Homo sapiens: one gene and its partners. The protein of the gene in region 1 interacts with the protein of each later gene in a biochemical or structural test. Each region holds a gene or a part of one and is shown in the gene's direction. Other genes may lie near its edges.

Region 1 (9,835 bases):
ACTTTCTCAATTCTCTTTCCTTGTCTATAAAAAAGGGATGATAATCTATAACTTGCATAATTATATTGAGGATTAAATGAGATAAAAGATGTGAATAATCTTAGTGTAATTTAAAGATTCAATGAATATAATTGTTAACTAATCTGAGCCAAGACAAAAGGTAGAATTTTGTCTTCATTCAGGGGCCAGGTTCAGTGGCTCATGCCTGTAATTCCAGCACTTTGGGAGGCTGAGGCGGGGCAGATCACCTGAGGTCAGGAGTTTGAGACCAGCCTGACCAACATGGAGAAACCCCGTCTCTACTAAAAATACAAAATTAGCTGGGCGTGGTGGTACATGCCTGTAATCCCAGCAACTCAGGAGGCTGAGGCAGCCAAATCATTTGAACCCGGGAGGCGTAGGTTGCAGTGAGCCAAGATCACGCCATTGCACTCCAGCCTGGGCAACAAGAGCAAAACTCTATCTCAAAAAAAAAAAAAAAAGAATTTTGTTTTCCTTCCCATTCTTCCTTGGGCATTTGGATCTGGAAGTGAAGACAGTCCAGTATAATTTGATTTGTGTTGTTCTTCCCTCAGGTGGTTACCTTAGTCAATAAGAAGGTAGCTTATGAGGGCATAAATGATGCAACCCAAATGTCAGATGTGGCCTCTCTGCCTCCTTTTTTTTTTTTTTTTTTTTTGAGATGGAGTCTCGCTCTGTCGCCGAGGCTGGAGTGCAGTGGCGCGATCTCAACTCACTGCAAGCTCCGCCTCCAGGGTTCACGCCATTCTCCTGCCTCAGCCTCCCGAGTACCTGGGACTAAAGGCGCCCACCACGACGCCCGGCTAATTTTTTGTGTTTTTAGTAGAGACAGGGTTTCACCACGTTAGCCAGGATGGTCTTGATCTCCTGACTTCGTGATCCGCCCGCCTCGGCCTCCCAAAGTGCTGGGATTACAGGCATGAGCCACCGCCCCCGGCTTTTTTTTTTTTTTATTTGAGACCAAGTCTGACTCTGTCACCCAGGCAAGAGTGCAGTGGTGCGATCTTGGTTCACTGCAACCTCCGCCTCCCGGGTTCAAGCGATTCTCCTGCCTCAGCCTCCCAAGTAGCTGGGATTACAGTCACCTGCCACCATGCTGGCTAATTTTTTTGTATTTTTAGTAGAGATGGGGTTTCACAATGTTGGCCAGGCTGGTCTTGAACTCCTCACCTCAGGTGATCTGCCGACCTTGGCCTCCCAAAGTGCTGGGATTACAGGTGTGAGCCGCTGTCTGGCTGCCTCTCTGCCTCTTCAAGATCCAAATGCAATGGGCTTGAACCTCAATATTCACATTTCCCAACTCATGTAAGTGCAAAGTCCTACACAAGTTTTTGCAAGTTCCACAAGGGCTTGTGGTCTCACAGTTACCTCTGCTTCCAGTCTCCTTTTTCAACTGAGACCTAACAAAGCACATTGCTCAACTCCCTACTCATGTACTCTCACAATTCCCCTCTCTCAAAAAGCGTTCCTGGGTGTAATAGCCCTTCCTGAAGTCTTGAGAGTCACATAGGATGGTCACGTCCTAGTGTAACAAACAACTTATCCCATTTTAGGTATCCCACTGCTGAAACACTCTTGTCAACTACCATGGGAGAGTTTCTTCTGACTCTTTACCTATGTAGCACCTATCCTTACATTGATTTTCTTACTCATCTTTTTCCTTTTCCCCTCCGATCTCTATTAACTTGCCCTCCCATTTTGTCAAGTGAATTCCAAATTTGCCTTCCCCCAACCCTCCCACCCCCACCTTTTTTTTTTTTTTTTTTTTGAGATGGAGTTTCACTCTTGTTTCCCAGGCTGGAGTGCAACGGCGCAATCTCGGCTCATCGCAACCTCTGCCTCCTGCTACCCCTAATTTTGTTTAGATGGAGTCTCACTCTGTTGCCCATGCTGGAGTGCAGTAGCACAATCTCGGCTCACTGCAACCTCCGCCTCCCAGGTTCAAGTGATTCTCCCGCCTCAGCCTCCCGAGTAGGTGGGAGTACAGGCGCCCACCACCACGCCCGGCTAATTTTTGTATTTTTAGTGGAGACAGAGTTTTACCATGTTGGCCAGGCTGGTCTCGAACTCCTGGCCTCAGGTGGTCCCAAAGTGCTGGGATTGCAGACGTGGGCCATCATGCCCCACCTACCCCTACTCCCTTTTTAAACATAGAGAGCAATTTCTTCTCCCAAAGTTACGTATTCACTCTCATCAATTGAGGCCCCAAGCAGGACAAAAGGACTTTCTGTGCATTGGGATCTGTCATTCCTGGAAGGCAGTTGTGGTTTAAAAATAGCACTTTTTTTTTTCTGTTATACGAAGCACAGTGTTTCCTATTTGTTGAATGCTTACTGTATGCCTACCACTCTATCAAGTCCTCTCCAGTAGCTTGTGTTCTCATTTGATCTTCCCAACAACTCTGAGAAGCAGCTCTTATTATTGCTCTTTCTACAAATAAGGAAGGGGTGTGCGTGCGAGAGAAATTAGGTAATTGGCATAAGATCACACAGCAAGCAAGGACTGAAGACCAGGTCTGCCTGGCCCCAAGCCTGTGTGTGCCCTTTCTAATTTACTATACCGCCTTTCAGAGGAGGGAGAAGGAGAAAGCAACCAGAAGAACTGAGGCTACATAAAAGCAATACCATCTGTTCTCATATTGTCTCACAACTTTAAAAGGATGGCTCTATATGCTGTCTCATTATTCCTAGGAAGAAAGAATAATCATTATCATCTCGTCTATTTTGAAATGAGGGAAGTAGGGCCTTGTGAGAGAAAGAGAGTGAGGGAGCAGTTCAGCGTAGCATGTTTGATTTTGCTATTACAGAGGTACCAGCAGTGGGTGATTAAGAGCTCAAGAGTGACCATGGGAGCTGGTGGCCAAGGTGATGTGGAGGACAAGGACTGAGGGACCAGGAAATCTCATAGCTACTGAAGTCACCAGGAGGATGGCAGGACAGGGGCTAGTGAGGATGACCATGAGCCAGGGGCTGCAATCTGTAATGCATAAGGAGCAATTGGGGGGTCAGTGATGAGGAGGGGTTGAGGGGGGTATGGCTGGAGAGCACAGAAGAAAGAATTTTTGCACAAGGGTGGAAATGGCCATGCCATCCCCACATCCTAGTTTTATAGTATATGGGGAGTGGAAAAATGAGAAGCCTTCTAGCAGAGGGCAGCAAAGGAGGCAGTACCTGGAGGAGGCTCAGGCAAAGAAGTCACCTGAGTACTCTGAAGAAGCAGAGGGTATAGCAGAGTTTGTTGACAAAAGAACAGGATTCTAGAAGGCACAGAGGAAAGAGCTGCCAGTGTGATGGGCAGTGTGAGTGAAAGGGCTGGGCAAGAAGCTCAGAAGAGTAAGCGTCTGAGGCAGAGGCCAGACAAGCAGAGGAGCTGTCAGCTTGGGTGGTTCCTAGGCTGGAGATGTACACTGTAGACAGGGTCATAATGGAACTTGGGGGGAAAATGGTTTTGGTATTTGACTCAGACCTCTAAGATCTGAGATGGGGGAGAAGTGTGGGGAAAGACAATGATTCTAGAGCAAGCCTTCAGCTGGCTCCTGTGACCTCAGGAAGACTGGAAGTCCATATCAGGATTTGAGGGTGGGGTATTTATTGCCTCCTCTATCTGCCTCCTCTAGTGGAAGTGGGACTTCCTAGGGCCAGGCCAGGCAAGAACATTTTTCTACTCCTGTTGACAGCCTCCTGGTAATGGGAAACCATTGAGAGGTTTTTGTTTGTTTGTTTGTTTGGTTTTTGATGGAGTCTGGCTTTGTTGCCCAGGCTGGAGTGCACTGCTGGAGTGCAGTGATCTCGGCTCACTGCAACCTCTGCCTCCTGGGTGCAAGCAATTCTGCCTCAGCCTCCCAAGTAGCTGGGACTACAGGCATGCACCACCATGCCCGGCTAATTTTTGTATTTTTAGTAGAGACAGGGTTTCACCATGTTGGCCAGGTTGGTCTCGAACTCCTGACCTCAAGTGATCTGCCCACTTTGGCCTTCCAAAGTGCTGGGATTACAGGCGTCAGCCACTGTGCCTGGCCGAGAGTTTTCTTAAACAAGGTTGATGGTAACATGGTGACATTTTTTAAAGGGTTGCTCGGGCTTGTGTCAAAATGATTTTGGTATCTGACTCAGAATGAATGGGACCAGGAAGTCTCACAGCTACCGAAGTCACCAGGAGTATGGCAGAACAGGGGCTAGTTAGGATGACCATGGGCCAGGGGCTGCAATCTTTAATGCATAAGGAACAATTGGGTGTCAGTGATGAGGAGGGGTGGAGGGTGGTATGACTGGAGACCACAGGAGAAAGAATTTTTGTACAAGGGTGGAAATGGCCATGCTGACACCACGTCCTGGTTTTATAGGGTGAATTGGAGAGTGAAGGCAGGAATTAGGAAGCTGTTGCATTAGTCCAAGCAAGAAGTGATGATGCTGGAGTCAGAACAAGGGCAATGGAGACACAGAGGAAGGGCAGGGATATGTTAAGGCGGTGGGATGTGGGGTGTGAAGGAAACACAGATAGGGTAGAGGACAGCGTCCAGGTTTCTGGCTTGGTTTCCGCTTGTAGTCAGCCTCCCTCTCTGGGCTTTTGTGAAGACGGAGCCATAGAACGGACCGGACCAGAAAGCAGTTTGGAAATGGCAAAACTGCTACCCATCATCAGCTACATTATCATCAAAGCTCTCTAATTACCCTAGTAAGTTCAGTCAATGGAACGAGGCATGACAATTAAGATAAATCACGAGAGTCACCCAGACATGGGGGACCTGGAGGTCCTGAGTCACCTCGGATTACACCTGCTAGGAGTTGAGGGCCGGGGCGGGGCGAACACAGACTCCGCCCTTGGGCGGGGCCTGGATGCGGCCGGAGCGGAGCAGTGCTGGAGCGGGAGCCTCAGCCCTCAGGCGCCACTGTGAGGACCTGACCGGACCAGACCATCCCGCAGCGCCCCGCCCCGGCCCCCTCCGCGCCCTCCCGACGCCAGGTCCTGCCGTCCCGCCGACCGTCCGGGAGCGAACCCGTCGTCCCGCACTCGGAGTCCGCGGTAAGGGGCGCGGCCCCGGCAGCCCGCCCGCGGAGGATCAGGGACCGATCCCCGGCGCGGGGCGCTGGGCACCGAGAGCGGGCGCCGAGAAGGAGCGCGGGGCAGCGGAAGGAAGCCGGGGGAGGAGCGAGGGAGGGGGCTCCGCGGCGGCAGAGGTGGGGCTCACCTAGGGAGGGGGCGCCGAGGGGGTCTCCCAGACGTTGGGGGCAGCCGGGGGAGCTCCAAGGGCGGGAGGGGAGCAAGAAAGACGGCGCTGGGGCTGGGAGGAGAGATGGGGGGCAACTGGAGGGCAGTGAGGGATCGCTGGGGGAAACGGGGGCGTGGGGGGCGGGGGAGCTGCGAGGAGGGCGGAGTGGGGCTGTGCGGAAAGGTGGTACCGGGCAGCCGAGGGGCAGCGAAGGGGGCGGTGAAGGGAGCGGACTGAGGGGAGCTAGAGCGGGGGTGCGGGGGGAGGCATGGAGGTGAGGAGCTGAGGGGAGGGGACTGGCTGGGCGGGGGTCGTTTGGAGCTGGAGGGGACTGAGGTGCCGAGGGCAAGGGGCGCTGGGCAGCTGGGGAGTGTCTGGTTGGGAGAGGGTCGGGGGTGGGGATGTGGGTATGGATAGCTGGGAAGGAGAAAGGCAGCAGGGCAGTGTCTGGTCGAAAGAGGGTCATTTATGGGGGATGTGGGTATGGATAGCTGGGGTCGGAGGTTGAGCCCGGCTGGGGACCGGCGTGGGGGTAACTGTAGATGGAAGACGAGGGGTGGGGCTTGGGGGCGGGAAGCTTGGGAGAATGGAAGGGTGAGAGGCCAGGTTGGGTCTACCCTGCTGCAGAGGAAGGGGGCAGGGAGCCGGTGGAGACACAGGGAAGTGGCCTTGGAAATGGACACAGGGGCCTACATTCTGGTCAGGAGTGGAGAGGAGGCTCTGGAATAGAGTAGGGTCTGGCGGCTGCAAGTGGAGGAATCGTGGGAGAACTTGGAGTGTATAGATAGGGTGGTGGGGCGCTGGGTCAGCCTGGGGAGGAGGCCAGGTGTGGGTCGTGGTGTAAGGGTGGAAAGGTAATGGGGGCTGGAGTGGTGTCCACGCACTAGCGGTGTCTCGGCCACTCAGGAGTCCAAGGAGGGGACCCAGGCACTGGACCTTGTTACACGGGCACCGGGGATCACAGAAAATAAGAGAATCGTGGACAGAAAAAGTCATCCAACTCTGTTCTGTAGTCCAAGCATGGAAGCAACTTTGGGGAGGGCAGGGCAGCAGCCTTTGGAAGCTAAGAGAGATGTGGAGGAGGTGGGAGAAAGATGGGCCCTCAAAACACACACACACACACACACACACACACACACACACACACACACACACAAAACAAGATGGGCCCTCTTCCCCCGGCTTCCTGGAATCCAGATGGAAAGGGGTGGGAGACAGTAAAAGGAGAGGATGTGTGTGTGTGTGTGTGTGTGTGTGTGTGCGCGCGCACAGGTGGGTGTCCACCTGTTCTGTGCCTATAAACAGAGGAAGACAATGGAAGCCGTGAAAGGCCCTATCTATAGAAGTGGAAAGCCCTGGTGCCCTGTGGGAGCCAGAGAAGAAGCATTTTGGGGGAGGTGGGTGGGTTGGGGAAGCCTTCCTGGTCATGAAGGATTTAGCTAGCAGTGGAGGAAAGTGTGTTCCTATCAGAGGAAACCGTATGGGAAAAGGCAAAAATCTAAAAGCATCTCCAGTCCAAGAAATAGATCTTCAGTTTCTTAAAGATTATGACATGAAGGGAGGCATCAGTAACCTATACAAAATATTTAAATAGATTTCCCCTCTAAGCTTGAAGCTCCTAGGGTTTCTCTCCATCTCCCTAAAGTATAGCACAGGTCCTGGTGCATAGTAGGTGCTTGGTGAATGTTGATTGAATGAATAATTGGTGCTCCTGCCTCAATTTCTTCATCCATTCCCAAGAATTGTTGTGAGAATCAAATAGGATAATGTGGGTGAAAAGAACTTTGTAAACTGTAAAACAATGTACAAAGAGAGAGGCCACTGATGTTATTCTGCAGGTGTTCCTGTTTTGTCAGTGGACACACCCATGGCTATCTCTTTCCAATCTGGAGGAGGAAGGAAATGAATATCAAGCATCTGTTGGTGCAAGATGGAATGCTTTGAAAGCATCTTGTAGAATGCTAGACATTTAGTAGGTGCTCAATAAATGGTAGCTATTGTGATATTGTTTCTGTGGCTCTAGGAGACCTGGGAAAACAATGAGAAGGTGGTGATGGGTCAGCAGTGGGGAATGGTCTAAAGACAGATTGAATTAGAAAAGTAGAGTATGGCTTAAAGGAGGATGAGGTCCACATTTGCCCAACTCCCTTCTTATTCTCACTGAAATGCTCCAAGTAGGAAGACAGGGAATTACATTATTGAGCCCCTGCTATATTGCATATACAGTTGACCTTTGAACAGCATGGGTTTGAACTGTGTAGGTTCACTTATACCTGAATTTTTTTTTTCAACCAAACACTGATTAAAAAAAATACCATGGTGGGTCAAGCGCAGTGGCTCAAACCTGGAATCCCAGCTATTTGGGAGGCTGAGGTAGGAGGATCGCTTGAGCCCAGGAACCTGAAGCTACAGTGAGTTATGATCAGGCCACTGTACTCCATCCTGGGAAACAGAGTGACACCCATCTCTTAAAAAAGAAGAAAAAGAGAAGAAAATACAGTAGTGAAGGGAGGTGAAGTCTGTATATTCAGAGGACCAACTTTTAGTCTAGGTGGGTTCCACTGGGCCAACTGTGGTTCTTGAGTAGGCGTGGATTTCGGTATATATGGGGGTCCTGGAGCCAATCCCTTGCCTATACCAAGAAATTACTGTACTATTCTAGATGTATAACCCACATTACCTATAATTTTCCCAACAACACTTGTTTTATGAATGAGGAAACTGTCTTAATCATGTAACATTTCTTGCCAAGGTCTCATAGGTAATAAATGATAGACCTGGAAACTGAATCTAGTTTGTTTGATTTGGAGCTCCAAACTATTTCCACTACACAGGATGACTTGCTAGAAGAAACCATGAAGCACAGAGACAAACAAACAAACAAAATAAGGGGTTAATAAAACACCCTCCCATATACAGGTTTTAATTCTTGCAACAGTTTTGCCAGGAAGCCATTTTATGAGCTCCTTTTATAGATAAGGAAACTGAGGCCAGGGGTGTGATTTGCCTAAGTTTACAGGATCACTGAAAGAGCCAGGGCTTATCTTTCAAATGCCAGGTCTCTTGGACTCAGTCTCATGTTCTTTGCAACAAAAGGTAAGTTCCTTCATTCACTTCTTCACTCCATTTATTGAGCTGATCTCTTCTCGCTGGATTTTAGGGCTCTCTCCTCCTCCTCCCCGCTCTTTCCTGGCTGAAGTTGGCTTCTTCCTTAGGTGCTTATTTCTGCCGCCTATCAGACTGAAAGGGTTGTTTTTCACAGCCACCCTTTGAGGAGTCATTTCTTTCCCCCAGCCTGGGACAGGGACGACTTCCCAGATGGTCCCTGGGCCTTCATCTGTATTGCTTGTCACGGAGATAGCTCTATCATTTTATGTGACTGTCACAAAATAGAGGAAAGATTTGATTGATGCTTATCTTACAAATGCAATTCTGCATGCACCACTGTGCATGACCTGTCTGCTTAGATCTGCCTCAGGCAGCTGCCTGCTGGGATGCTTTTTGCCTGTCTTCCAAATGTCTGAGTAGCCCCTGGCCGCCCCCTCCTAAGAAGATCCCCTTGGGGGCTTCCATCTGAATGAGCCTTCCAACTGAACTCAGCTCTCTGCCTCTCCCCGTTCTCACACCACCTACTGGGAAAGCCATGCTGTGTGTGCATAAGCAGATGTTAACAGTGTGGTATGGCAAGTACAGTACGGTAGCAGGACACTCAGGATGTTGGGTATGCTTCTTTTTTTTAATTTTTATTTTTAGAGATAGGGTCTCACTCTGTCACCCAGGTTGGGATACAGTGGTGCAATCATAGCTCACTCTAACCTCGAACCTCTGGACTCAAGTGATTTTCCAGCCTCAGCCTCCCAAGTACCGAGGACTACAGGTGCACACCACCACATCCGACTAATTTAAACTTTTTTTGGCTGGGCGCGGTGGCTCACGCCTGTAATCCCAGCACTTTGGGAGGCCGAGGCAGGCGGATCACAAGGTCAGGAGACCGAGACCATCCTGGCTAACACGGTGAAACCCCATCTCTAGTAAAAATACAAAAAATTAGCCGGGTATGGTGGCGGGTGTCTGTAGTCCCAGCTACTCGGGAGGCTGAGGCAGGAGAATGGCGTGAACCCGGGAGGCGGAGCTTGCAGTGAGCTGAGATCGCGCCACTGCCCTCCAGCCTGGGCGACAGAGTGAGACTCTGCCTCAAAAAAAAAAAAAAAAAAAAAATTCGTAGAAATGGAATCTCACTATGTTTCCCAGGCTGGTTTTGAACTCCTGGCCTCAAGTGATTTTCCCATTTTGGCATCCCAAAGTGTTGGGATTACAGGCATGAGCCACCATGCCCAGCCAGGATGCTTCTTTATTCACCCTAAAATTGTTGTGGTTTTCGTTTTCCTTAATCCCGTCAAACCTGGAAGCCATTAGGTAACAGAAGTTCCATTCATGACCCTCCAACTGACTTGCTGTGTGAGCTTGGACAAATCACTTGTCTTTGCAGAGCCTCAATTTTTTTTTTTTTTTTTTACCTGTAAGATAAACGGAGGTAGATCAGGAACTGAAACAATTTTTTACTCTTGCCATCACTTCCTAGTCTCCTATCTGTGGCAGTCACAG
Region 2 (9,629 bases), on another chromosome or scaffold:
ATTGGAATTGTAACAGAACCTATATCATAGGTTGTTACACATTCACATAGCTTGCCATATGGCTAAGTTTTATAAATTTTAGCTAAAAGGGAGAATGCAGGAGAGCCACAGTAGCTTAAGAACCCACTTTCATGGCTCTGGATGGTAATGGAAGTATGAGGGGTTTCTGGTCCTTCTTGCGCAGGAAGATGAGCTCCATAGACAATGTTATCTTTTATTTGTTTTCTTCTTTTAAGATGAAACGTGCTGGGACCACCGGGTCAGCCCGAGGCATGGCCCTTTATGAGGAAGAGGTGAGCACTGAGCAGGAATTGAAGCCACAGTCAGGGTCTGTACTGGGCTAGGCTAGCATCTTCCTCTTCTCTCCCTCCCTGGCCCCTTCCTCATCCATTCTCTTCCAACCACCCCCCTGTTGATTTGCCTTGAGAACAACCCTTTGCCCACAAGTGATGTCCTCTCCACACCTAAGCCTCTGAGGAGGGGGAAGCCCCTTTCTCTCATACCCAGGATGCCCACCAGGTTTTTGGCCTTGTTGTCAGAAGCTTTGTTGACAATTCTACTGACTAGGGCAATGGCACACTCCTTTCTTGGAGTAGATGCATTCTTTGAGCTGTGTGCATGGCAGAAACTGAACTAAGCCTTCATGCTGTCTGCCTGGGTCCCTCATATGACCCCAAGGACTGCCCTTTAAGAATACTGGTTGTGTTAAGGGAGTCTGAGATCAGAGGCAAGAATCTGTCTGGGGCCAGGGTCAAGGCTCAGTCCTGGGTTAGAGCCAAAGCCAATCAGTGACCCGGAGCAAGTTTAGTCTGTGCTCACAGTCAGAGTCTGTTTATGTCTAAGTCAAAGGGAAGCCATTGGTCCCCATGTGCCTGAGACTGGTCCTCAACTTTCACCTTTGGCTCCTCTTTGGAGGCTAAGCCATCTGCTGTCCCTGGTACTGGCTCCCTAGAGCTGGCCAAGCTTCGCCTGCCCTTCATAGGTTCTTCCCTAATGCTCGCCATTCACATTTCCTGGCCCCCTCCCCTCCAAGGCCCACACTGCCTTTTCCCCCAATGCAGCAGGTGGAGCGTGTTGGTGACATCGAGGAGCGTGGCAAGATCCTGGTCTCCCTCATGTACAGCACACAGCAGGGAGGCCTCATTGTGGGCATCATACGCTGCGTGCACCTGGCTGCCATGGACGCTAATGGCTACTCAGACCCATTCGTCAAGCTGTAAGTCAATGCCTTGGGGCTACAGGTGGGCCCTGAAGGAGTCCTGGAGCCTTGGAAAAGGAGAACCAGACAGTTTCACCAAGATCGTTGTACACTGAGACCCAGAGAGGGCAAGGAACCTGCCCAAGGTCACAGTGAAACAAATGCCTACAACTGGCAAGAATGTGGGTCTGGAGTCTCAGGCAGTCAAACTGGTGTGTCACTTGCCCACAGGCAAAGCTCTGTGGCTCTGTCCTCTTGAGGGCCTGCTGATGGCTCTGCAACTAAGCTAATTAGTTATAGTAGCCCCATTTGTACTCCCAGGAGTTGGCCGCACACCCCTCGGACCGCTCAGACCTCCACCACCAAAGAGGCCATCTGGCATTTTCCAGATTCATTCTGGAAATGCTCAGAAAAAAAACATGCCTTCAGTCTGGGGTCTGTTCCAGCAATCTCATCATGGAGAATAAAAGGGACTCTGTTATCTGTGTTAGTCCAGATCCTCTGAGAAGAAGATGCCAAAATAGGATTAAGCAGACAAGGGGTTTATCAGGGGAAATGCCCATTCCAGGAAGTCTGCAGGGAGTCAGGGGAGAAAGGGAGAGATGTTAGACTACAATGCAAGTCTGACCTGAGTGAGGGGACTAGATAGAGAAGTTGGAGGGAAGCATTCCAGATACAAGTTCAGTAAGGCCACCAGGGAGTCCTCAAGCCAAAACTGGCCATCAGACATGTCCTGTATCTCATAGGAGTGGGCCGACCTTAGCATCCCTGCCAGGCCCAGTCATTGGCTGGGAGCATGGCCTTGGCACAAATATGTCATGGACTTCCAAGCACTGCATCCAGGGCCTTGGTCAGTTACGCTTCCTGTAGCTGGAGGTCTGCCAGGTGCAATCTCATAGCCACCGCTGTGTCAGACATCAGGCCCTATTCTCATCTCTGCCAGCTGCTGGCTGTGGACTCTAAGCAAGTTATTTAGCTTCTCATTCAGTTTCTTCATTGGTAAAATGGAGACAAGAGTTCCACTTATCTCCAAGGTGGGCTTAAGGCTCAAATGAGATAGCACAAAGAAAGCAAACAGAATCGAGCCTGGTACAGAAATGTTTAGCACCTCAGTAGAATTCTGCTGGCCTTGGGGCAGCAACATGTATGTTTCTGTGGATGTGGATCTCCATGGAGCATGGAGTCTCCAGTATGCTCTAGCTATGTGACCTGGGGCTCATAGCTTAACATCTCTAGGCCTCAGTGTGCTCATCTGCAAAATGGACAGAGTAATACTGTAATACTGTATATTAGTTCAGGTCCTCCAAGAAGGAAACACCAAGAGAAGATACAGGTGTGCCTGTAGAGGAGATAAGGAGGAATCCAGAGGGGACCCATAGAGACCACAGACCTTGCTACAGGTATGACCCCTGTGGAGCAGAGAAGGAAGGAAGTTTGGGTAGAAACAATCTTAGGCTACAGTGCAGCTCCAAGGAAGCTGCACTATTTCATCCAAGGTGATGGAGAATCCTTGAGCACAGTCACCCATCAGAGGAGTCCTGCATTTCCCAGAAATGGGGCTGCCTAGTGTCCCTGCTAGCGTCAGTTATTGGCTAAGAACACTTGTGGGAAGCGTGGCTTCAGCAAGAACATCATGAATACAGAGCCCAGTAGCTTGTTCATCAGTTTTACCCCCTGCAACTGGAGAATGCAGGCTGAGAGGTACATTTTCAAGGGGTCTGGTACACAGTAAATGCTAATAAATACCTGCCATTATGGTTATAAATAACCACCATCACTGTCCTTACTCATGGCAGAGAGTATTTACTAATATCCCCTCCAGTTGGGAGACACTCCCCCCACCTCCACTGCCTCTGATAACAGAAAGCAATACTTCCCTTTAGTCCATGGCCAAAGAACAGATCCATGTGGGCTGTCTTTCACATTTCCTTTGAATGAAGATTTAGTTAACAAAGAACACACAGGTCAGGGACAAGTTTGGTTTCTAAGAGTAATTTGATTTTATTTCCTCGTATGACCCAAGAGAGGAAATGAGCTCAAGGGGTGCTGTCCAGCACTCCATTAGAGGTCAGCCATGTGCAGATTGGTTTTCTTAAATAATTCTCTCTACCACCCCCTCCCCCACCTACCCAATCCTTCCAGAAGAAGTAGAATTGCCGTGGTCACTACTGAAGCAGCTGACCTGCTGGGTGCAGTTATGGGAGAAAAAATGGGAGACCACTAAGCAGTTTCTGATCAAATAAAGATTTTTTAAAAGCCAGAACTTCCCATTATTTTTGCTTAGCTCTTTGGTAACTTCTAATTCCTCATTTTTGTCTCTTCTTAAAAATTATCCTCAAAACCACTTCTGTAGATGAGAATGAAATGTTCGCCCTCTTTACAGGTCAAGAAACAGAGGCACGGTAAAGTTACGCTCATGTTTAAAGTTGCTCCGCTGGTGACAACCTGAATCAGAATCCAAATGTCCCAGCCCTTAGGAGTGTTTAGCCCATTGTGTTTACTCACCCAGGAAATATTTTGTTTTGTTTGGTTTGTGTTTTGTTCTCTCTCTCTTTTTTAAGAGACAGGGTCTCGCTCTATTGCCCAGGCTGTAGTGCAGTGGTGTGATCATAGCTCACTGCAGCCTCGAACTCTGGGGCTCAAGAGATCCTTCCACCTCAGCTTCCTGAGTACCTGGGACTGAAGGCATACATCACTGTGCCCAGATAATTTTTGTTATTTTTTATAGAGACAGGCTCTCGCTATGTTGCCCAGGCCGGTCTGGAACTCCTGGGCTCAAGTGATCCTCCCGCTTTGGCCTCCTAAAGTGCAGAGATTACAGGCACGAGCCACCATACGCAGCCTCACCCAGAAAATATTGATTGAGTACCTACTATGTGCCAGACACTGGGCCTCACTGGAAAAGAGCCCTGTAGGCAGAAGAAACAGTTTGCTCAAAGGCCCTTGGGTGGAAAGGAGAAGTAAGGAGTGGGGTGAGGAGGATGGCATAAGGTTAGGTTGGGATGGAGCAGAAACCCAACACACACGGTCTTAAGGCCACATGAAGGATTTTGAACTCTCCCCTGAGTTTAAAAGGAACCCAGTACACAGTTTTGAGAAGTGGAGTGACAATAATCAGATTTGCATCTTCCCCTTTCTGTGCATACACCCAGCCTCTCTCTAGGGATTGGGGGCAGCCTAAGGTGGGATAGATGGTAAAATGCCAGGCACCACCAGCCATGGCCATCAATTTGACTTATGGGGAGAAAGTGAGCATGCTAAGAACACAGACTCTAGATGCAACATCTGGATTCAATCCCAGCTGTGTGAGCTAGGGCACACTTCTGCCTCTCTGGATCTCAGTTTCTGTTTCTGTAAACTGAGTGGTTGTGGTTCTACTGCCTAGGGTCATGTGGGGATTAAATATGCCTAAGTTGCTCAGTCAAGTGCCTGGTACCAAGCAGATGCTCTAATGCATATTGGTCATTATCAATGTTGATCCCTTTCTGATTTATTCATCAATTCACCCTGATAAAGAAGGGGCCTTTGGGGTCAAGAGGCTGTTCTTATTCATTAAACGTCATCCATAATAGCATGTTGTGTCGCCTCCCAGCTGGCTGAAACCGGACATGGGAAAGAAGGCCAAACACAAGACTCAAATTAAAAAGAAAACCTTGAATCCCGAATTCAATGAGGTAAGGCTGCCCTATTCTTTTTCATGCTCTGGGATATTTGCTGTGTGTTAGAGAGGCACAAATAGCCACATAGCCATTAAATATGTGGCCACATAGCCATTAAATGCAGCCATTTGAAATGATGATGTAGAAAAATATTTGAAAAATATTTGAGAACATGCTAAGTTGGTTTTTGCCCAAAGTTGTAAATGAAAAAGGAAGTGACAATACTGTATGTTCAGCATTACTTAGTTAACAAAAAATTTATACATCACTGTGAACACATGTGGGGGAATGTTGACATGGTTATTCTTGGGTAGTTGGATTACCGGGAATTGGGGGTGGGGGTTCTTCTTTGTTTTAGCAATGAACATAAAATGAATTTTGTAATTAGGCAGAGAAGCTATTTTTTAAAAATCAGATTGTCTGGGAACATATGTACTCAGTCCACTTCAACTGTATTTATTTATTTATTTATTTTTGAGACAGAGTCTCACTCTGTGGCCTAGGCTGGAGTGCAGTGGCGTGATCTTGGCTCACTGCAACCTCCACCTCCCTGGTTCAAGCAATTCTCCTGCCTCAGCTTCCCGAATAGCTGCAATTACAGGTGCCCACCACCATGCCTGGCTAATTTTTGTATTTTTAGTAGAGATGGGGTTTCACCATGTTGGTCAGGCTGGTCTCGAACTCCTGAGCTCAAATGAGCCACCATCTCAGCCTCCCAAAGTGCTGGAATTACAGGTGTGAGCCACCGGGCCCGGCCACTTCAACTACTTTTATTCCTAAGCAATAAAAAAGGGGATGCCCCTTCATAAACTACCAGAGGGGAAGGACTATGTTCATGGCCATTTACCTACAAGGAAACTTGAGCTCTATTAGAAAAACCTCACCAGCCTTCCCAATTTCAAGCAGAGAATTCACTGAAAAGAGGATGACAGTGCTTTGTTACACAGAGTGTTTGTTGGAAGGGGATCACGGGACCTGGGGCAGAGGATCGGCACGGGAAGACCTCCTTGCTCCCAGAATGCCAGCTCAAGGACCTCTCCTTGGCCCATAACCCCTAGGACTCGGCCTCTTACCTCCCAATGCTGTGGGTTCAGAGGGCTCTTACCCACATGTCTTCCTCTGTTGTATTCAGGAGTTTTTCTATGACATCAAACACAGTGACCTGGCAAAGAAGTCACTGGACATTTCAGTCTGGGACTATGACATCGGCAAGTCCAATGATTACATCGGTGAGTGTTCCTAACTCCAGAGAAAACGCCCTCTTCTGTCCTCCCCAGAACAGGAGAGCCTTATCCAGGGCTACAGAGAGTTGAGGTCATTGCTATTCTTTTGGCAACCTCATTGTTCAAATGCTAAATTGAGACCCATGATCTTGACCTTGGTCCAATTTGGGGATGTCTTTACATGAAAAGCCTTACAAAACTTGATTATTTGTTGAACAAATCACCTCCAGTGGGGTAATTAAATCACAGGAGAGATTTGCGTTCTCTGCAGAAAGCAGGGTGCAAAAGAATTCTTAATTTATTTGCATGTCCAGGATAAAATTTTTAATTTTTTAGTTCCTGTTTGAATCATGAGGAAGAAAATCAATTAAAGATGAAGCAGGGGGGTGGGGACTCCAGGCAAGGGACAGAGCCTGAGCTAAGGGGTAAAGACAGGATTGAGCAGGATGATGAACCTTTTTGGAAATAGACAATGAGTTCCCAGAAGTAGTGGGAGATAAGTTTCAGTGAGTAGAATGGTGATTTGTAGAAAGCCTTTAAAAATAGACAGTGAAATTATGACTCAGTGGAACAGTAGGGAGCCATTGCAGGTTCTTGAGGCAGAGAAGGACCGTAATAATAATAACAACAACAGCAGCAACGTTATAACAACTCTCTATAGAGTATGGATCCCAGGTTGCTGGGGGTCACTGCTTGGTGCAGTTTTTTCCCCAACTACACATTTGGGTCTAGAACGACCTCTATTCTGACCACCTGCTCCTATCTTCCCATTTATCCTCCAGGAGGCTGCCAGCTGGGGATCTCTGCCAAGGGAGAGCGCTTAAAACACTGGTACGAGTGTCTGAAAAATAAAGACAAGAAGATAGAGCGCTGGCACCAGCTACAGAATGAGAACCACGTGTCAAGTGATTAGGCTAGTGCCCAGGTCCCCATCTCCATGTCCCGGGTCCCCCCCAGCCTGCTCTAGCTGCCCACCGCACCCTGATCTCTCTTCTCTATGCCTACCTCCCCCCATACCCTGCTGATCTCCCTGAGCCTGCCTTTGAGCCCCCGTCACGTTGGGCACTGCTGCCAAAGACTCCCTCCTCCCTGATGCTGGGATGTGGGCTCTGAATACAGCCCCTCTCTCATCCCTGGGATGGAGCAATGGGGATGGGGTTGGGGAGACGTTTACAAAGAGGTTGATCATTTAATAACCTCTCAGTTTGGGTAAATTACAAAGGTTCTTCATCATTTAGGACTGTTTTTAGACCCTCCTAGCCTTGAACACACACATGTACACACACACACACACACACACACACACACCCTTTCATTCCCTGTGTTGTGTCTCTGTATATCCCCAGTTGTCAGCAGACCCGGACAATGCTGTGAGAGAAGCATTGGGGCACAAATAGAGCCTCCGGGCTCCCACTGCCCCCTGAGATGTACACCCTGATTGCCAGGAAAACAGACTGCTGTGTTCAGTAACACACCCTCCCTGCTCCAAGTGCACCAGGATGCAAATGCACAGAATTCACCAGGGGCTTGGACGCTCTCCTCTTTCCGAATGTCACCTGTGTGCTTCCTAGCAAAACAAAAACAAACGACAACAACAAAAAACCCTTCCTCTGTCACCTTTTCTCCTCCTCCCTCTTCTTTCCCTTCCATGATAGTAGATTCTCTCTTTCTCAGCCTCTCCCCTCTCCTTTCTCTCCCTGCCTTTCTTCCCTTTGCCTTTCTCTCTCTCTAAAGCAGTAACACCGCAAAAACAACAGCAAAAAAAGTGTATGTTAACCTAGCCTCACCCCCTTGCTCTCACCAGCCTGACCAGGAAACTGAGAAACTGGCCCAAACCTGAGATTCCACTTGGGCCCACGCTTCTTAACTGACCCACTCCTCCCGTTGGCAGAACCAGACATTCCCAGGGCTTGGGCCAATGGCTGGCACTGCCCTGAGTGCATGGCAGCATCCCTCAAGCTGTGTAGATGCCCCATAGAGGACTCTCTCATCCGTGGGCTCCCCGGGTGGGCACGGAGGCATTTAGAAGACCAGGGCCATGGGTCTGAGGAAGCCTCAGCCAAAGCCTCCAGCCTTTCTCCTTTCTCCGCTCTTAGGTAAATGAACAAGCTACCCTCCTCCCCAATGCCCTTGACTCTGTTTCATTGACTCTTTTGCATCCCATCTCTCACTCAGAACCCCCTCCAGTCTCTCTGTCTCTCTTTGTCTGTCTCTCTGTCTCCTGCACTCTCGTTACTAAGCTTCCTGGGAGAATCAAATAATATCATGGCTATGGAACAGTAGAGAGAGACAGGCCTGATGCCAAAGGCTTTGGGCTCATCATCAATCTTTCACTTTCTTCCTATAAAAAAAATTATTTTATAAAGGAGGAAAAGGCAATGTGGGCAAACATTACAAATTTGAGGTTGAAGTCAGGCAATCTTCAATGCCCTGTGAGAAAGGTTCGATTTTCCCAATTTTGATGAAGTCTTCCCTCATGAAAATCACTCCCAGTCATCCCAAACCCCTGACATTCTCTACAGAAGCATCAGACAGATACTCAAACTCTCACTTTCCCCAAATCACATCTCTTAACTTTTCAACGCCCTCCACCCTCAGCTCCCTGCACAATTCATGGGAGGACTCATTTCTTGCCTTGAATAACCATTTTCTAAACATCGAGCTCTTCACCTTCCCCAAGGTGGCCAACAGCTTCCTGGCTGCCATCTTTCCTTTTGACCTTATCTTTCCCCATTAGTCCCTGGTGGCACCTACTCTCAGCCCACCTCCCTCACCACAGTTTCCCCTTAGGAGACAGCATGCTGGCTGTGTCGCCCAAGCCTGATGCTGGTGTAGGCGCTGGAATCAGCATGCAGCAAGCTCACAGTGCCCCTAGTCTGGGTGCCCGCTGTCCCCGACAAATGTAACCACCTCCCTGCCTAGAATACACACACGTCCTCCGGTGCATGCACAACCACCCAGCATCTTTCTTTGTGATGATGTAGCCAAAAATAAAGTAGGAGCATCCAAGAAAACGAGTGGTCTGCAGTTTTCCTTTCTGGTTTCTGCGAAGTCCTCCTCCCCACCAGGACATATGCTATTCTGATAGTCAGTACTTAATGAGCATCTACTATGTTCCAGGCACTGGCGACAGATGTGTTCTCTGCCCACGAGGAGTTTGCTTTATGGTGGATTTTATCTTGGGCAGGTGGGCCTAAGGTAACTTGGCTGACTCCAAACCCTTCTAGAAGAATACTTTTTGCTGGTGCCTACCAAACAGGAGGGCAACATCCTCATCCTCCTCCTGCTGCTACAAGACCTGGGAAACGTCCCAGGTGGTTGCAGAATCAGAAATTGCCAAAGCTAAAAGAGAACATACAATTGAGCCACAACCTAGTTCAATCAACTCACTTTTTAGACAGATGAAGAAACCAAGGTCCAGAGAAGAAAATGCCATGTCCAGTGTTAAACAAAGGCAATACCAGGAAAGGAGTTCGATCGTTGGACTCCCAGAATCCAGTGTTCTTCACACACTGATCGATGAGCATGGACCATCAAATGCCTCCCTTG
Region 3 (9,995 bases), about 150 Mb from region 1:
CCACTGTGCCCTGGGCCCTGAGGTGGCAAACGTGGCCAAATTTCTGTGCCGACAGAGCAGTGGGGAAAACTGTGACGTGGTCGTCAACACCCTGGGGAAGAGGGCCCCAGCCTTTGAGGGCAGGATCCTGCTCAACCCCCAGGACAAGGATGGCTCATTCAGTGTGGTGATCACAGGCCTGAGGAAGGAGGATGCAGGGCGCTACCTGTGTGGAGCCCATTCGGATGGTCAGCTGCAGGAAGGCTCGCCTATCCAGGCCTGGCAACTCTTCGTCAATGAGGGTAAGACCCTAGAGAGGGAGGGGGAGTAGGTGGGGCAGTCTCGCAGGTGAGAGCCAAGCTCAGCTCCCTCTGAGTGTATTCATCAATAGTCATCAATCAGCCAACAGCATCCACTCAATGACCAGCCCCGAACTGGAGGCTGCGTGGGCTGCTGCACAGGACAGCAAGAAAAAGCAACCTCTGCCTGATGGCAGCTCCTAATTACTCTTCTGTTATCAAAGTCATTTTGATGGCTGTCCCTGCTTAACAAGCAAGAGGTGAGTAAAGCTCTTGATTGAGGCAGGACTTATAGACTGTGTTTCAGGGCTGTGGCAGGCTCTGCAGGGGTCCTCTGTCCCCTCCCCTGGCCCCTGAACAAGATGGGTGCCTCATCCCTCACATTCAGATGGAAAAAGGATTGGCTTATCTTGGTCTCAATGCGTTCCCAGGAGTGCCCCAGCCTCTAAATGTTTCACTGTCACATTTCGTAGGGTTATTTGTGAATTTCAGCACCATCTGGCCCACTCAGCCCTACTCCAGTGAGCCATCAGCATGGTGAAAGAATTAAATCCCAGCTCCTTCTCATCCCAGAGCACCCTGCATAGAGTTGCCCTCGTGAGAAGCAGCAAACCAGTACTTGCAGTTCCAAGTATCTGTGCTTGTGACTTTTTTTTTTTAAAGGGGCTTATATTCTCTGCATGCCATGTCCACATCCAGCTCTGGGTTTTCACCAGAATCCCCTGCATCTTTGGTCACCTGCTTCTCTCTGGATCTCAGCTTTAGCTGCCTGGAGAATGGCTATCGTCTTTGAGATGCCCCTTGGGGCCCCAACAATTAAGCTCACCTTTGCTACATACTTTATAGTTTACATCATACCATCCTAAATATATTTTCTTGATTTGGGCATAATCCATTGGGCCACTTTTGTGGAATACACTTGTTAGTGTACTAAATAGACAAAAACCTACACAGAGGGAGACTTTGTAAGAAGCCAAAGAAGAGCTGATATCCTCTCCTTCAACTCCTTCCATTCTCTGCTCAGAATAAGATGGGGGAAAAGAACAACATGTGCAGGCTGATGGGGAGACTCCAAGCCCTTGGAGTCTGGCCCTGATGGCTCCAGCTGCAGGCTCTGTGACATTAGGAAAGCTCCTTTTCATTTTCTGAAGAGGGTAAGGTGATGCGTGTAAACTTCACTCCCCATCCTGGCTGAGACCCCGGGAAGAAGGCTTCTCAGGCCACGCAAGGCTCTTCCTGCGTGGCCATCCTCCCATCCCATCTCTGTCTGTGCTTCCAGAGTCCACGATTCCCCGCAGCCCCACTGTGGTGAAGGGGGTGGCAGGAGGCTCTGTGGCCGTGCTCTGCCCCTACAACCGTAAGGAAAGCAAAAGCATCAAGTACTGGTGTCTCTGGGAAGGGGCCCAGAATGGCCGCTGCCCCCTGCTGGTGGACAGCGAGGGGTGGGTTAAGGCCCAGTACGAGGGCCGCCTCTCCCTGCTGGAGGAGCCAGGCAACGGCACCTTCACTGTCATCCTCAACCAGCTCACCAGCCGGGACGCCGGCTTCTACTGGTGTCTGACCAACGGCGATACTCTCTGGAGGACCACCGTGGAGATCAAGATTATCGAAGGTAGGAGTTGACAGGGAGGGAGAAAGCTCTAAAACCTCTCCAGCCAGCAGCAGCATCCCCAACCACTCTTCCTCCTTTTTCACCCGCCTCCACCCTGATGGGCCAGACCTCAGGAGGGAGCCCACCTATCCAGAGGTCACATTTTCATGCCTATAACACGCACCTTACACTCTGAATTACCATACATGGTACCTCCTACTACCAAGAACATGGGCTTCTTTCGCAGTGTGCAGGCATCAGCTGAAGTCAAGGATTGCAGATACCTCTTTGTATTGAGTCTAGAAGAGAAGGAAGAGTGAGGAAAGCAAACTGAAGTCCATGTGTGAAGATCTATGGTCTATGGTAGACTCTGGATTGATCATGGTGCTCATCAATAATAATTATTACCTAGGCACACAATTACATTTCTTCTGTAGTCAGAATAACATACTTATTTCTAATGCTATCCAAAGAGGATATGTAGACTGAACATGGTGGTGCATGCCTGTAATCTCAGCACCTTGGGAGGCCAAGACAGGAAGATTGCTTGAGCCCAGGAGATGGAGGCTGCAGTGAGCTATGATCGCACCACTACCCTCCAGCCTGGGTGACAGAGAGAGACCTTGTCTCAAAAACAAAAACAAAAATATATATATATATGTATATGACATGTGGACAAAGATTCCCACCAGAGTCACTTCCCTGCAGCATCTCCAAGTACCAACTTCTGTGTTTATTTCTACCTCCCTCCCTCCTCCAGGAGAACCAAACCTCAAGGTACCAGGGAATGTCACGGCTGTGCTGGGAGAGACTCTCAAGGTCCCCTGTCACTTTCCATGCAAATTCTCCTCGTACGAGAAATACTGGTGCAAGTGGAATAACACGGGCTGCCAGGCCCTGCCCAGCCAAGACGAAGGCCCCAGCAAGGCCTTCGTGAACTGTGACGAGAACAGCCGGCTTGTCTCCCTGACCCTGAACCTGGTGACCAGGGCTGATGAGGGCTGGTACTGGTGTGGAGTGAAGCAGGGCCACTTCTATGGAGAGACTGCAGCCGTCTATGTGGCAGTTGAAGAGAGGAAGGCAGCGGGTGAGTCTCCAAGGACAGGGCCTGCACCCCTCAGACCCAGAGGCAGGACTTCCTGAAGGCCCCTGCCTGAGAGCTTCTCAATCAGTGCTGGCCCCTATGTTTGGCTGTAAGAGGCTGAAAGTGGAGAGTGGGAAGGGAGGGGACATTTAGGTCCTATATAGCCTCGTTGAGCCCTTCAAAAGGGACATCTCAAATAAACATACCAACTAAGTAAAAATAGTGGGTTTGCTATTTAACCTCGGCATTAAGACAACTCCCAGCTGAATGTGGTGGCTCACACCTGTAATCCCAGCACTTTGGGAGGCCGAGGTAGGCAGATCACTTGAGGCCAGGAGTTCAACACCAGCCTGGCTGACATGGAGAAAACTCGTCTCTACTAAAAATACAAAAATTAGCTGGGCATGGTGGTGTAATCCCAGCTATTTGGGTGGCTGAGGCATGAGAATTGCTTGAACCCAAGAGGCAGGGGTTGCAGTGAACTGAGATCGTGCCACCACACTCTAGCCTAGGCAACAGAGCTAGATTCCATTTCAAAAAAAAAAAAAAGACAAGTCCCATAGTTGCCACTTCAACCCAGATTGAAGTCTCTTCTATATCTGGAAATATTCTTCTCTGTATAGAAGAATAATATGCATACATCACTGTCATATGCAATATGTTCATCCCCCTTCCCCCTGCCAAAGCTCGCCCTCGAAAGAGGGCCAGATACCTTCATTTACAAGGTCTGATCAGGAAAATTAGGAAACATCTAGTAAATTTGCATTTCAAGTCCCCTTTTAAAATTTCACATGAAATGTTTTAGCCCTAATAAGGGTATTTGTAGTCCCTCAAGAAATCCTATTGGGTCTGGACCCTGCGGATGGGACTCACTGAGGGGCCCATCGCCAGGCTACCTCCAGGGGGCAGCACTATCATACCCAGCTGGGCAGTCAGGAAGCCTGGGGCAGCGTCTCAGAGCCTTGAAAATCTCCCGGGCATAAGTGATGGGTCAGCCTTTATGCACAGCTGGTCTATGACACGAAGCCTTGAAGGTCCCCACTATACTTTTGGTAGTAATGGGGCAGAGATCATCTGTGACAGCTGAAGAAGGCCATCACAGCTGTTTCTAATGTCATCCTGGGTCCTACCCCAACAGCCTTGAGATCGAACCCTGACCCTGTGATTCCTCATGAAGTCTCCCCCAGACTCCTTCACCTCGAGGAGTAAGAGCATAGAGAAAAATCACAACCCAGGCCCACTCTTCCCTGCTGCAGGGTCCCGCGATGTCAGCCTAGCGAAGGCAGACGCTGCTCCTGATGAGAAGGTGCTAGACTCTGGTTTTCGGGAGATTGAGAACAAAGCCATTCAGGATCCCAGGCTTTTTGCAGAGGAAAAGGCGGTGGCAGATACAAGAGATCAAGCCGATGGGAGCAGAGCATCTGTGGATTCCGGCAGGTAAGGAAGGATTCAAGGCTCCCCACTCGGAGAACACCCCAGAGCCGAGCACCTGAGGCTGGGCCACCAGGTCCAAGGAGGAAAGCCCATCTGTCTCTTGAGCACTGGGGCAGCCCTTACTACCTCTGCTTATATGTGGGAGGGTCCTATGGTACCCTCTGCCCTTCTCCCATGGCTGGGGAGGTGTTTACAATTCAGTTCAATCTTCCAGGCCTAGGATGCAACAAGGCCCAGTGCGTGCCTTTGCCAGTCTGGGAAGGCTTCTTAGAAGAACAGAGCTAGGGAGCTGCATCAGCAGGGTGGGGTGGATAAACCTGGGAGGAAAAAGGACTAAGCCAACCTTGCCAGCACATCGTCGGGCCCCCAGATCTCCCTTCCAGGGATGAACTAACTTAAGCCTTCTTCCAGCTCTGAGGAACAAGGTGGAAGCTCCAGAGCGCTGGTCTCCACCCTGGTGCCCCTGGGCCTGGTGCTGGCAGTGGGAGCCGTGGCTGTGGGGGTGGCCAGAGCCCGGCACAGGAAGAACGTCGGTGAGTCCCTGGGATACTCCCTGCCTCCCACCTCCAACCCGAGCCCTCAGTCCTGAATCATCCACCCATAGAGGAAGCTGCTGTGTCTCTTCTTTTTCATGAGCTAAAACAAAGGATCCCGAGAAAGCAGGATGGGGAAAGATAAACCCACACATACTCGAAACTGAAATTCAGAGCTGCTGTCCAAATACTAACACTGGAAAATCATCTCCAATTACCCAGGATCTAGGTTCAGAGACAGGGCTGCCAGGAAGAGGAGATTGGGTTTCAGGAGACCCTGGGCTTGGACTAATTGGATAACTAATGAGCTGTGTGACATTGAGCCATCCTTATGCCATGCCTCAGTTTCCTCATGGCTCAAGTCAAGGATGATAATCAGGACCTCACGGGGCTGATGTGAGGACCAAAGGAGATGCTGTGCATTGAAAGGTCCCAGAGTGACAAAGATCAGGGATTACCAAGTCCTGATTACCCAGGAAAAGGGACTGGGGAGGAGACTCGGATCATTTCCATCCCCCTGGGTCATAGTCAGAGCTGCACCACCTCAGCTGTCCTGCAGGGCTACAGTGGATCCGCCCAGAGAGAAGCAGCCCAGCCTGGCCTTCTAGGTCCCAGCCCCTGTCCTTACACCAACTCCTCTTCCTCCCGGACAGACCGAGTTTCAATCAGAAGCTACAGGACAGACATTAGCATGTCAGACTTCGAGAACTCCAGGGAATTTGGAGCCAATGACAACATGGGAGCCTCTTCGATCACTCAGGAGACATCCCTCGGAGGAAAAGAAGGTATGACCCTCACTCAAGGGAATGCTCAGCCCCTGGGGAGAGTAAGAATTGGTCTCACATCTGGGTTGGGAAAAGGAGGCTAGTAAGGGCTAACCTACCCTCTTTCTTCACACAGAGTTTGTTGCCACCACTGAGAGCACCACAGAGACCAAAGAACCCAAGAAGGCAAAAAGGGTGAGGAGGAAGAAGGAAGCCCCACTACATGACAAAGAAATGCAGCATGAGGGGATGCAGTTAGACTTCAGAAAGAACTACCTCAACATGGGGGCCGATCCCAGAATAGGGAGGATGATATAAATAGTCCTCAGGAGTCCTCAGGACTTTTTGAGGAAGAACTATATCTTACTGGTTGTGGGATGCTGATGTGGATAAGGCCCAGGAAGGAGGTGAGCTATATGATTAGGCTGTAAAACTGCAGGAGAGAGGCAGGCCAGGAGATGAGGAAAGCAGGTGCATAAAAGATGGGAAGCTACAATGCCAAATGCTGGTGATTAAATGGATGCTCTTCCTGGGTTGGGGGACCCAAGGACCTCAGGCCACACATCCTCCCTTGAGGGTTTGCTCAGGACCAGCTTTTTGCCTGGGCCTAGGAGACATTTGCTTGCGGTGGGCAGTTTGAGGCTAGAAGCCCCTGCTCACTTCTCTTGAAGCCCCACCAGAGGCAACTCCTGCCTTGGGTGCCATATACCATCCCCTCAATCTGCCCTAGGACTCAGGGGACCAAGAAAAATAACATCTCATGCCTTTAATCCCGAGGTGAGAGTTTTTGTTGTTGTTGTTGTTGTTTTTATCATATCTACTTTTTCTTGAAACATCTCTGGCATTTAGCAAAGTTAGAACGAGTTATTCCTGGGACAGCCTTCCCCTTTAACTTTGTGGTGCCAAAAAGCTACCTGTCTGGGCTGGTGGAGAAAGAAAAACATACACCACCGTGGTTGACCCCAGCCTAGGCCACCTTGCCCGTGGACTGTGTGGGCAGCTTCCGGGGACAGGCCCGGGCAACAGAGGCGGTTCCACTCCGTGTGTCAGAAGGAGGTAGTGAGACAGAAGAAGATATTTTTAGAGGCTGCAACTTTCCATTTCTCAAAATGCGTCCTTCTTGGTGAGCATGGGGGCTGGGATGAGAACAGTGGGCCCCAAAGGCTTGTGTTGCTTGGACCAAGATCACGAATTCAGGACATTAAGCACCTCCCCTCCCCTGACTCCACCCACTGAGCCAGTGCCCCCAACACTGATGCCTCTCCTCTTGCCCCTTAGTCATCCAAGGAGGAAGCCGAGATGGCCTACAAAGACTTCCTGCTCCAGTCCAGCACCGTGGCCGCCGAGGCCCAGGACGGCCCCCAGGAAGCCTAGACGGTGTCGCCGCCTGCTCCCTGCACCCATGACAATCACCTTCAGAATCATGTCGATCCTGGGGCCCTCAGCTCCTGGGGACCCCACTCCCTGCTCTAACACCTGCCTAGGTTTTTCCTACTGTCCTCAGAGGCGTGCTGGTCCCCTCCTCAGTGACATCAAAGCCTGGCCTAATTGTTCCTATTGGGGATGAGGGTGGCATGAGGAGGTCCCACTTGCAACTTCTTTCTGTTGAGAGAACCTCAGGTACGGAGAAGAATAGAGGTCCTCATGGGTCCCTTGAAGGAAGAGGGACCAGGGTGGGAGAGCTGATTGCAGAAAGGAGAGACGTGCAGCGCCCCTCTGCACCCTTATCATGGGATGTCAACAGAATTTTTCCCTCCACTCCATCCCTCCCTCCCGTCCTTCCCCTCTTCTTCTTTCCTTCCATCAAAAGATGTATTTGAATTCATACTAGAATTCAGGTGCTTTGCTAGATGCTGTGACAGGTATGCCACCAACACTGCTCACAGCCTTTCTGAGGACACCAGTGAAAGAAGCCACAGCTCTTCTTGGCGTATTTATACTCACTGAGTCTTAACTTTTCACCAGGGGTGCTCACCTCTGCCCCTATTGGGAGAGGTCATAAAATGTCTCGAGTCCTAAGGCCTTAGGGGTCATGTATGATGAGCATACACACAGGTAATTATAAACCCACATTCTTACCATTTCACACATAAGAAAATTGAGGTTTGGAAGAGTGAAGCGTTTTTCTTTTTCTTTTTTTTTTTTGAGACGGAGTCTCTCACTGTCGCCCAGGCTGGAGTGCAGTGGCGCAATCTCGGCTCACTGCAACCTCCGCCTCCCAGGTTGACACCATTCTCCTGCCTCACCCTCCCAAGTAGCTGGGACTACAGGCGCCTGCCAGCACGCCTGGCTAATTTTTTGTATTTTTAGTAGAGACAGGGTTTCACCGTGTTAGCCAGGATGGTCTCGATCTCCTGACCTCGTGATCCGCCTGCCTCTGCCTCCCAAAGTGCTGGGATTACAGGCGTGAGCCACCGCGTCCGGCCTCTTTTTTTCTTTTCTTTTTTTTGAGACAAAGTCTCACTGTGTCACCCAGACTGGAATGCAGTGACACAATCTCGGCTCACTGAAACCTCTGCCTTCCAGGTTCAAGCTATTCTCATGCCTCAGCCTCTCAAGTAGCTGGGACTACAGATGTGGGCCACCATGTCTGGCTAATTTTTTTTTTTTTTTTTTTTTTTTGTAGAGACAGGGTTTCGCCATGTTGACGAGACTGGTCTCGAACTCCTGGCCTCAAGTGATCTGCCGCCTCAGCTTCTCAAAGTACTGGGATTATATAGGCATGAGCCACTGAGCCTGGCCCTGAAGCGTTTTTCTCAAAGGCCCTCAGTGAGATAAATTAGATTTGGCATCTCCTGTCCTGGGCCAGGGATCTCTCTACAAGAGCCCCTGCCCCTCTGTTGGAGGCACAGTTTTAGAATAAGGAGGAGGAGGGAGAAGAGAAAATGTAAAGGAGGGAGATCTTTCCCAGGCCGCACCATTTCTGTCACTCACATGGACCCAAGATAAAAGAATGGCCAAACCCTCACAACCCCTGATGTTTGAAGAGTTCCAAGTTGAAGGGAAACAAAGAAGTGTTTGATGGTGCCAGAGAGGGGCTGCTCTCCAGAAAGCTAAAATTTAATTTCTTTTTTCCTCTGAGTTCTGTACTTCAACCAGCCTACAAGCTGGCACTTGCTAACAAATCAGAAATATGACAATTAATGATTAAAGACTGTGATTGCCACCAACGAGGCTCAGACTGTATTTGCACCCAATACCTTCTGTCTCCCAGACAGCCTCTTCAGAGCTTTTCTTTTCTTTTTCTTTTCCTTTTTTTTTTTTAAGACAGGGCACTCTGTTGCCCAGGCTGGAGTGCAGTGGTGCAATCATGGCTCACTGCAGCCTCAACCTCCTGGTTTCAAGTGATCCTTCCACCTCAGCCTCCAGAGTAGCTTGGACTACAGGCGTCCACCACCACACTGGCTAACTTTTTGTATTTTTTTGTAGAGACAGAATTTCGCCATGTTGCCTATGCAGGTGTTGAATTCCTGGGCTCAACTGATCCTCCCACCTCTGCCTCCCAGAGTGCTGGGATCACAGATGTGAGCCACTGCATCTGGCTGCCTTTTGCTTTGGTCCCAATTTTAGGCACCCTGGGACCCCCTTGTCTGTTAAGATCATTCCTAGGTTCTGGTGCTGAACCATGTCATATCCTCTAAGGGCTGCCCAAGCTGTCTGTTGGCAGCTAGCCCCCCATCTCACCCCTAGACTCTTCCACAGGGCTTCTGTGTGTGGAGAGTTCTCTCTGCAAGAGAGTTCTCCCCAGTCTGCCATCCTGCCTGATGTGAACCTTTGCTTCCACCCAGGCCTTAAACATAATGCTGTGGATGCTATGAGCTTCCCAAGCCTACCTTTTCCTGGGACTCAGACTTCAGGCCTCCTTTGGTGTTCCCTCCAGCCCCACTAACTGCAGTACTCCAGTCTCAGTTCCCAGGCCCTGACCTGGGTCAGAGTCTTGGGCTTCTATCCAGCCAGAAGAGGGGGCATCAGAAATGTTTTTTTCTTTCTTCTGTGATGGGGATGCATACCTTCTGGAATGACAGCAAATCGTTCCAGGAGGATCAAAATGACAGGTGTGTCAGAAACTACCACTGTCTTACCCTTCCAGGAAGCTGTTCTCTGACTCACCAAAGGGCCATGTTTATGGTAGAGGATTAAGATGCAACTTCTGTACGCATTGCAATAACCAGCGAGCCAGTCCTGAACTCGTGTAGCCTATCCCAGCCCTTTGAAGCAAAGGTCAAGAAATGTCACTAAAGCCAAAAGCGATCTTATATTATTCCTAAGTGATATTGTCAGTAAGGCTCAAAGTCCATCTGCTCCCCGTGT

Evidence for each region.
Region 2: the proteins of RAB3B (region 1) and RPH3A form a complex in vitro, tested with the Homo sapiens proteins (one study listed by BioGRID).
Region 3: the proteins of RAB3B (region 1) and PIGR form a complex in vitro, tested with the Homo sapiens proteins (one study listed by BioGRID).

What each region holds. Positions count from the first base shown.
Region 1 is NC_000001.11:51,985,760-51,995,594, reverse strand, and holds the start of RAB3B (ras-related protein Rab-3B), read left to right. Parts: upstream 1-4,894; 5' UTR 4,895-5,043; intron 5,044-9,835. UniProt on the Homo sapiens protein: The small GTPases Rab are key regulators of intracellular membrane trafficking, from the formation of transport vesicles to their fusion with membranes.
Region 2 is NC_000012.12:112,889,788-112,899,416, forward strand, and holds the end of RPH3A (rabphilin-3A), read left to right. Parts: intron 1-236; coding exon 237-293; intron 294-1,061; coding exon 1,062-1,216; intron 1,217-2,491; exon of another isoform or gene 2,492-2,598; intron 2,599-4,790; coding exon 4,791-4,872; intron 4,873-5,989; coding exon 5,990-6,086; intron 6,087-6,862; coding exon 6,863-6,993; 3' UTR 6,994-9,094; downstream 9,095-9,629. UniProt on the Homo sapiens protein: Plays an essential role in docking and fusion steps of regulated exocytosis.
Region 3 is NC_000001.11:206,927,381-206,937,375, reverse strand, and holds the end of PIGR (polymeric immunoglobulin receptor precursor), read left to right. Parts: coding exon 1-281; intron 282-1,557; coding exon 1,558-1,890; intron 1,891-2,629; coding exon 2,630-2,956; intron 2,957-4,209; coding exon 4,210-4,390; intron 4,391-4,798; coding exon 4,799-4,920; intron 4,921-5,573; coding exon 5,574-5,705; intron 5,706-5,820; coding exon 5,821-5,879; intron 5,880-6,962; coding exon 6,963-7,058; 3' UTR 7,059-8,854; downstream 8,855-9,995.